Linked DNA regions of Homo sapiens: region 2 is linked to region 1. A link means that fine-mapping ties the variant in region 1 to the expression of a gene that starts in the linked region. Tissue or cell type: fibroblasts. Region 1 holds a variant in brackets; the other region holds the start of a gene. All regions are shown on one strand. Distances are between the middles of the regions.

Evidence for each region. PIP is the estimated chance that this variant, and not a neighbour inherited with it, causes the effect.
Region 2: it holds the start of ZNF596, and the variant in region 1 is fine-mapped to the expression of ZNF596 in fibroblasts (GTEx, PIP above 0.99).

The regions. Positions count from the first base shown.
Region 1 is chr8:254,654-258,902 of GRCh38, reverse strand. It overlaps LOC101927566 (a long non-coding RNA gene), which reads left to right. Exons shown (of 5, transcript XR_245320.4): 5 at 589-636. Among named protein-coding and RNA genes, the nearest start is that of ZNF596, 24 kb to the right of the region's middle. The variant C/G (reference allele first, on the strand shown) is at 1,874.
Region 2 is chr8:230,085-234,333 of GRCh38, reverse strand. ZNF596 (zinc finger protein 596) reads right to left here and starts at 1,878. Exons shown (of 6, transcript NM_001042416.3): 1 at 1,640-1,878. It also overlaps the pseudogene RPL23AP53. RefSeq lists an enhancer at 1,672-1,991 and a silencer at 2,012-2,111.

The DNA.
Region 1 (4,249 bases):
GATATTAGTTTATTAGCCTGTTTATTCTTTCTTTTAGCATTTTTTATGATTCTAAAAGTCTTTCAAAGCGCTTACTCGTAGTGACCAATTGGGTCATATCAATGACTTTCTATCCAATCTTATGTTTTTTAATCTGGTCTCCAAGCTCTGTTAAGAGTTTATTCATTTAAAAGGCTGTAAGGCATTTCAGTTGTTTCATTATGTATTTTAAGCCTAGAATGGTTTTATATATAAGATTTTAGTCCAGCTCTGTAATAAGGAACTGGTTTATCCTTTTTGTTTGTTTTCATGACTCGATAATGGACCAGGCAATTTTCTGTGGGAAGACAATGGGAATAGCATTTAAGAGGGTTTTTTTTTTCCTGATATCCTTTGTGCCACTCCTGTAGGAGTAGCTTTTGAGGGAACAGTAATACTGTTATAAATTTTGTTTTTTAATCTTTTTGAGACTGGAGTGCAGTGGCACAATCATGGCTCAGTGCAGCCTTGACCTCCTGGTCTCAAGCCATCCTCCCATCTCAGCCTCCTGAGTACCTGGTACCACAGGCACATGCCACCACATTCAGCTAACTTTGTTTTCTGTTGTAGAGACATGGTCGCACTATGTTGCCCAGGCTGGCCTGGAACTCCTGGGCTCAAGAGATCCTCCCACCTCAACCTCCCGAAGTCCTGGGATTACAGGTATGAGCCACTGTGCTAATCCTAACCACGGTTAAAATCTGACAAAAGTTCCCAATTCATAAGAAAATTTGGTTATATTTATTATATGTAGCATTTTATAACAACCAGAATCATGTCTTACAGCTTTGCATCAGGTCCCTGAGATCTTTATAAGTTGTATATAATCTTAGAATACTTACATTTATAACATATTTATATGAATATAACTTTAGAAGATATTTAACAAAACAAAAGTATGGCTGACAACAGATTTTCATCAATATATATGATTTTTGGAACATTTATGTCAGGAACATTTATATCAATAACATACCTATAAGTGTAACTGAAAGATCTTCCATCACTTATTACTTGATATCCTTTGTGCCCTGTGTGGTAAAATGTCGCCCATATATTTTACCAGATAAGTCTAACCATTTAATCTCTATAAGGTAAGAGGCAATATTTTTGAGGGTTTCCAGGGGTCAACCTTCAAAATCCCGAAGTTAGTTTTAGGCCAAAAAGACTTAATATAGGTTTTTAATCTTGAAGAAACCTGCCAAAGATGTCAGAAGACTCAAAACACTCAATCAAACAGAATCAGGGGTCACTGTTAAATAATAGCAATACAGAAGGTTACATAGATGTAAAAACATTAACCCTTTTATAGCTCTTTTCCTAACTAATCTAAAACCCAATTAAGACAAGGAAGGAATTGCCTTGATAACATGTACAATCTTTATTTTTGTCTTTTAGGCTAGTTGTGAGAAAGGTAAAGAAAAATTTCCTATAGTGTGATTGCTTTTGTTTATAAGAAACCCATTTAGATTTCTTGGAAGTTAAACCTAATGAAAAGGTTACTTGAATTTCATCAGACAGGTAGACAGTGTCCACGGCTATGAGTATATAGAGAAATGCAACCGAAAAACTGGTACCTTGGACAGGGAAATCCATGGCTGTTAGTAACCACATGAAAAGTTACTGGCTGGGCGCGGTGGCTCGCGCCTGTAATCCCAGCACTTTGGGAGGCCGAGGCGGGTGGATCACAAGGTCAGGAGATCGAGACCATCCTGGCTAACATGGTGAAACCCGGTCTCCACTAAAAATACAAAAAATTAGCCGGGCGTGGTGGCGGGCTCCTGTAGTCCCAGCTACTCGAGAGGCTGAGGCAGGAGAATGGTGTGAACCCGGGAGGCGGAGCTTGCAGTGAGCC[C/G]AGATCGCGCCACTGCACTCCAGCCTGGGCGACAGACCGAGACCCCGTCTCAAAAAAAAAAGAAGAGAAAAGAAAAGAAAAGTTATCTGACTGTATGGAATAATTTTGATATATCAAGAAAAACGGGCCAGCTTTGGTGGCTCACGCCTGTAATCTCAGCACTTTGGGAGGCTGAGGTTGGAGGGTCTCTTTACCCAGGAGTTTGACATCAGCCTGAAACATAGTGAGACCCCATCTCTATGAAACTAGAACTAAAAACTTAGCCAAGCATGGTTGGTGTTGTGGGAGGGACCAGGTGAGAGGTAATTGAATAATAGAGGCAAGTCTTTCCCGTGCTGTTCTTGTGATAGTGAATAAGTCTCATGAGATCTGATGATATTATAAGGAGGAGCTTCTCTGCACAGCTCTGTCTTTGCCTGATGCCATCCACCTAAGATGTGACTTGCTCATCCTTGCCTTCTGCCATGATTGTGAGGCCTCCCCAGCAAGGTGAAACTATAAGTCCATTTAACCTCCTTTTTTTTGTAAATTGCCCATCCTCGGGTATGTATTTATCAGCAGGGTGAAAATAGACTAATATTATAAATTGGTACCAGTAGAGTGGGATGGTGCTGAAAAAATAGCCGAAAATGTGGAAGCGACTTTGGAACTCGGTAACAGGCAGAGGTTCTAACAGTTTGGAGGGCTCAGAAGAAGACAAGAAAATATGAGAAAGTTTGGAACTTCCTAGAGACTTGATGAATGGCTTTAACCAAAATGCGGATAATGATATGGACAATGAAATCCAGGCTGAGGTGGTCTCAGATGGAGATGAGGAACTTGTTGGGAACTGGAGCAAAGGTGGCTTTTGTTATGTTTTATCAAAGAGACTGCCAGTATTTTGCCCCCGCCCTAGAGATATGTGGAACTTTGAACTTGAGAGGGATGATTTAGGGTATCTGGCAGAAGAAATTTCTGAGCAGTATATCATTCAAGATGTGACTTGGGTGGTGTTAAAGGCATTCAATTTTATAAGGGAAGCACAGTATAAAAGTTCAGAAAATTTGCAGCCTGGTGGGTTACTGACACAGTGCAGGCCCCTCCCACTGCGGCAGCTGAGCCTACTGGCAGGGCAGCCATAGTGTCACCACCTTATGTGACACCCACCTGTCTGACTGGCCGACCAGTGGGTTACAGGCCCCCCCTGTGCAGGACCCACCCTTTGTGGCAGTTAAGTCCACCCAAGCTGAGGTATCCTGGCGAGATCTTCACCTGGGTCCCATGGGGAAAATCAGTCAGCACCATATGTGCTCTGGTGGACAGGTGAGTGTCCCTTATGCCCCCATCGCCATAGTATCAGGAGAACTAGGAAATGAAATAAACGTCTTTGGCTAGAGCATGTCCTTGTCACCCCTTCCCTGAGTACTTTCTCTTCGGACTCCATTGTGTTGTTCCATTAGTTATTTTATTTTCAGTCCTAAAATGTGTGCAGTCTTATGTTTGGTTTTACCTTTCTGTTAATTGTTTGGGGACGATTAAGGCAGGATACTTGGTTGTGAGAGATCCCCACTGTTTTTACTTCGGGATGCTAGAGTCATGTTGTTTGCTGACCCCAATTTGGTCTTGGATTGACTGTTGGCCGCATTCTGGGTGCCCCAGGGTTTTCAGGATTTGGTGAAGGGACCCTTGTTGGCTGAAACTTGGGCCTTCTGAGTTTTCAACATTGGTATTCTGGCCACCCCCCATATGATCTGGAGTATTTGTGTTGACATTCCCTCTAGGATTCTGAGGGATATATGAGTTATAGCCCTCTCCCTAGGGGAGTATTGGTCTTGCCCTTTTCTGCCCTATAAGTTAGAAGTATTTTCCTAATAGCAAGCTGCTAACCCTTCCTTTATGCTGTCTTCCAACTAGCTTGCTCAAGCCACTCTTGGTCCAAGGAAATGGGAATTCCCAGGCCCCTGGCATAATGGAGAGCCACCTACAGTGGTAGGCAATTGGCCACGTGAATATTTTTTTCAGTGTCTCTGCTACGGGATAGGTTACCCAGCAGGTCAGGGCCTCTGAGGTCTCCCCTTGGGCAGCACTGTTTACCTCTTCCATTTCTCCCTTCCACAGTCCCTCCCTTCCATTTTTGAGCCCACCTCTCTACCAACCGTTGCTGTCTGTGGCATTTAGGTTCAAAATCCAACTGCCCATTTGAAGCTCATAATCCACTTTTTAAAAATTATGCTTTAAGTTCTAGGGTACACGTGCACAACCTGCAGGTTTTTACACAGGTATACACGTGCCATGTTGGTTTGCTGCACCCATCAACTTGTCATTTACATGAGGTGTTTCTCCTAATGCTATCCCTCTCCCAGCCCCCACCCTTGTCAGTCCCCAGTGTGTGTGTGA
Region 2 (4,249 bases), 25 kb after region 1:
CTGCCCCTTCTTTCATAACACCGTTCTTCCCTAGTGAAGTCCACACACATCCTTACATGGCAGCTGTGGGTATATCAACTGGTCTGACCCCTTTTAGTCACAGAGCCTGAAGTCTGCTAGTACCTGCTGAGCACAGTGTCATGGGTGAGAATGGGCAAGGCTTTTTCTTTCTCTGGTTCCTGAACTTCCCAGGCTCTCTCACTTCTGGATCCTGAATACCCAAATCCCAAGCTTCCTTCCCAGAACCAACACCTCCTCCTCATTAGAAAGATACCTTTGTTGTGTGCTTACTTTATAAAGTCTTGCTCTTTCCCTGTCCACTGCCTTGTGTCACTATGTGTGTGTCTTGGGGCCGGTGGAAAGGTGAACAGAAGCCAGTAGAGAGTAACAAGCACCAGCTTCACAGGAATGGCATGACCTTAATACGATAGTGGCAGTTTTCCCTTAACATCCCTGCCCCCTAAAGATTTCAGATCATATGTCACACTCTTAAGTAACAGCGATTTGTCTTTCACGGTTTTAATCATATTGATTAAAAGCATTTGTCTTCTCCAGAACATCACATTAAGTCATCAAAAAATATAAACCTTAAAAAGATGTAATTATTGGAACTGAAAAACATAAAAGGTGAGCTTTGGAAATATCTTTGAGCAGTCTATTCATTATGAACACATGTAATCTGTTGGAACAAAGTTCTAGGACAATCCAGGTCATCCTTCAATATTTGCAGAAAACAGCACAAAGAAAACTTGATACTTAAACTTAGTTGGAAACTTTATGCCACAGCCATTAAATACAGAGATCATATAAAGGAATAGAGGAAGCTGTTGAATACTAAACTAACTCAAATCATCATTATCCTTACGAAGTGCACACTGAATTAATGTAAAAAGCATTTAGTAAACAAAAAGTATTTTCAATATACAATTAAGACTGAAAAGTATTGAGGCCTCATAAGCTGAACCTGACACAATAAATTTAAAAGGGAAACTAATTTGGAAATCAGAAAACCATCTAAAGAATTTGGGAATTAGGCTTCTGCTGCCCTCTCTGCTACTGACGGTCAAGGCCTCCTCATTGTATTCTGTCCTCCATATCTCTGCTGATTCCCATTTTGTCTATTTCCATTTACCCCACTACTACTTGCTCAGGTCACTCTCCTTCATTGTCGGTGTTTGTTCAAATTCCTCAGACCCATCCACTTCCCATCTAAACTTCCCTCCCCTTTTCTCGCTCGTTGGCTCTACCTCCCTCCTCTGTTTTCTCCTCACTCTCCTGCCCCACCTCGACATCCACAGCGAGGCAATGAAGAAGCCCCTGCCAAGGAAGAGCCCGCTTCTCAGTGGGACACCGGGAAGGTAAACACCCAACAGTCACCGCTAGTGGGAGGCGATTGTGCAGAAGCACGAGGGTTGTTACAGGATCGGGCAGGTCCCCTACCCCAGTCTCGGACTCAGGGTCCTGTCTGAGGCGGCCACCCCGAAGCGTGGGGTTTGCGGAGACGTAGGGCCTGGCGGAGGGAAGGATGGGGAAGCATCTCAGGGAGGACTGGCGTCTGCCGAATCCCAGGGCTGCCCTGAGGGGCCAAGAGGGGCGAGGGTGGGGACGATGGAAGACAAGCCACATGCCGAATCGGGACCTGAGGCCGCGCGCGATAGGATGGGCGGACGGTGAAGAGAACTAGGGTGGAAGGGCCGGACAGGGGCGACCTCAGTGACGGAACCGGACACAGACGCAGATCTGGCAGCTGGGCGACAGGCTTCGGAGCATTTCCGGGCGTCGCGGGACTCCCCGCCGACAGGAGGGCGGTTGCCGAGCCTGTGACATCCGCGGAGACCAGCAGACCCCGGGTGTGGAGGACGCCGCAGGAAGGGAACTGCGTGGCTGGGTTTGGCCACAAAAAGCGGAGGGCACTCACCCGAGCGGACCTCGGCTCCGGAGAATCCGTTTCCGGGTCAACAAAAAACGTCGCGCGAGGGGCGGGGCCCGTACGTGCAGGGAGGGGAGGCAGAGAAAAAGGCGGGGCCGGGCCGGGGCGGGGTCTCGGGCAGGGGCGGGGAGCTTACCGACCTCCCGCCCCCGCTGCGCGCGTTTCTGGCCCTGCCAGTGTCTCCGCCGGTTGAAAGCGCGTGTCTGCGTCGGGTTCTGTTGGAGTGCGTTCGGTGTGCCGTGGGTCCGCGCTGCTTCCACCCAACTTCCTGTTAGGTAAGAGGCGCGTGAGGCTCCTGTGCCGGGGGCGGTGCTGCTCCCGAGTCGGCGCGCGGCGGGGACGCGAGTCCGTAGGTGCTGGCGGGAGCGAGAGTCGGGTGGGGACCCTCGCGAGCCCGCACTCCGCCTCTGGGTAGCAGCCTCTTCGGCCCCACACGGCGTGACGCGCGCTCGGGCTCCGCGTTCGCGTCGAGGCAGAGGCGTAGTAGGGGTCGGGCCCAGGGCTGGAGGGGCCGGGACCGGGCGGGGTGCCGCCCTGGACACCGCGCCGGCAGCTGTTCCGCGCGGGTTCATGTCATTCCTATTTTCAACCTGTCCTGCTCCGCACCTGAGATGATTTATAAATTCGGTACCTTTGGGACAGGCGTGGATGACATCCCATAATTTACTTCGTTATTAATTTCTAAATGTAATACATACCACTATCTAAAAGTATTTTTTAATTTGAAATATATTTGTATACGTATACATGTATATTTATTTATTTCTGAATTTTATCTCGTACATATAATGAGGCTCGTAAAGTGGATACTGTTCAGGACATAGGTGGATTTTGCTTTTAAGTAGTAAAGACTTAATTGGTGACTTACTGGGGCTATTTGATAAGGATTTTTTTTTAATGAACATTAAAAACAGTGAAATTGTATTTCCGGATTTCGTTAGCTTCATTTATATCTTAATTGGTGAAAACTGTAAGTTAATAACTCATTTTTATTTCCTTTGGAGATTCTTAAGTTTGTGCTACCAATGATTATTTCCAAAAAAGGCACACTTCTGGTTTTCCCAGAACTAATGCTAGCTTCTCAATCTTTTGAGTTTACTTGATATTAATGTTTGACCTCAAATCATGTCACATTTTTGAAGAAAACTTTCTCTTAGCCAATGGAACATAAACCACCCTGGAGTTCATATAGAGGAGGGGTTCAAATGCCTCTGATAGTGTCGTGTTAAAACTCATGGCCAAACGCAAGGTCACATAGCTTTCTTTCTATGTTTCCCTCTAGAATTTGTATAGTTTTGTCATTATAAAATGGGTCTTGTCCTAGACCCCAAGAACAGGTTTTTGGATTTCACATGGGAAAGACCTTTTGGCAAGTCACAGAGTATAGTGAAGTTAAGATAGTTTATTAGTGACTACTCAGCTACATAGCAGGGCGTCCTCAGAAAGCAAGAGGAGAAATGCACCTGTTGTAAACATATAATTTTTTTTTGAGACAGAGTTTCTCTCCTGTCACAATGGCATGGTCTCGCCTCACTGCGACCTCTGCTTCCTGGGTTCAAGGATTCTCCTGCCTCAGTCTCCCAAGTAGCTGGGATTACAGGTGCGTGCCAATATACCCGGCTAATTTTTTGTGTTTTTGGTAGAGACTGGGCTTCACCATGTTGGTCAGGCTGGTCTGGAACTCCTGGCCTCAAGTGATCTGCCTGCCTCGGCTTCCCAAAGTGCTGGGATAACAGGCATGAGCCACCCGGCGCCCGGGCTTAATGTTTGTTTATATAGGTTATTAAGAATCAGTTTGTGACAGGCTATTAGTATTGTTACTTCTCTTTGTTACTGTCGATTTTAACAACAATTTATGTGTGTACTGTTACCTTTAAAGTAAAACTTATTTTTAAACTAAGAATGCTTTTTGTTCTTAAAGTTCTGGGACATTTAAATAACTTTCATGTCTTTATTAACTTGTTCCCACAATCATAAATATTTTATAACGAAAAGTGCTCAACCCCCGAAATATATAATCCAACAAATTTAACGTGTGTGTGTGTGTGACAGAGAGAGAGAGACAGGGTCTCACTCTGTCGCCCAGGCTGGAGTGCAGTGGTGCGATTATGGCTGGCTCATTGCAGCCTCGAACTCCTGGGCTCAAGCAATCCTCCCGCTTCAGCCTCCTGGGTAGCTGGGACTACAGGTATGTGCAAGCATGCCATCTAATATATATATATATTTTTTGTAGACATAAGGGTCTTGCTATTTGCCCAAGCTGGTCTTCAACTCCTGATCTCAAGTGATCCACCCGCCTTGGCCTTCCAAAGTGCTGGG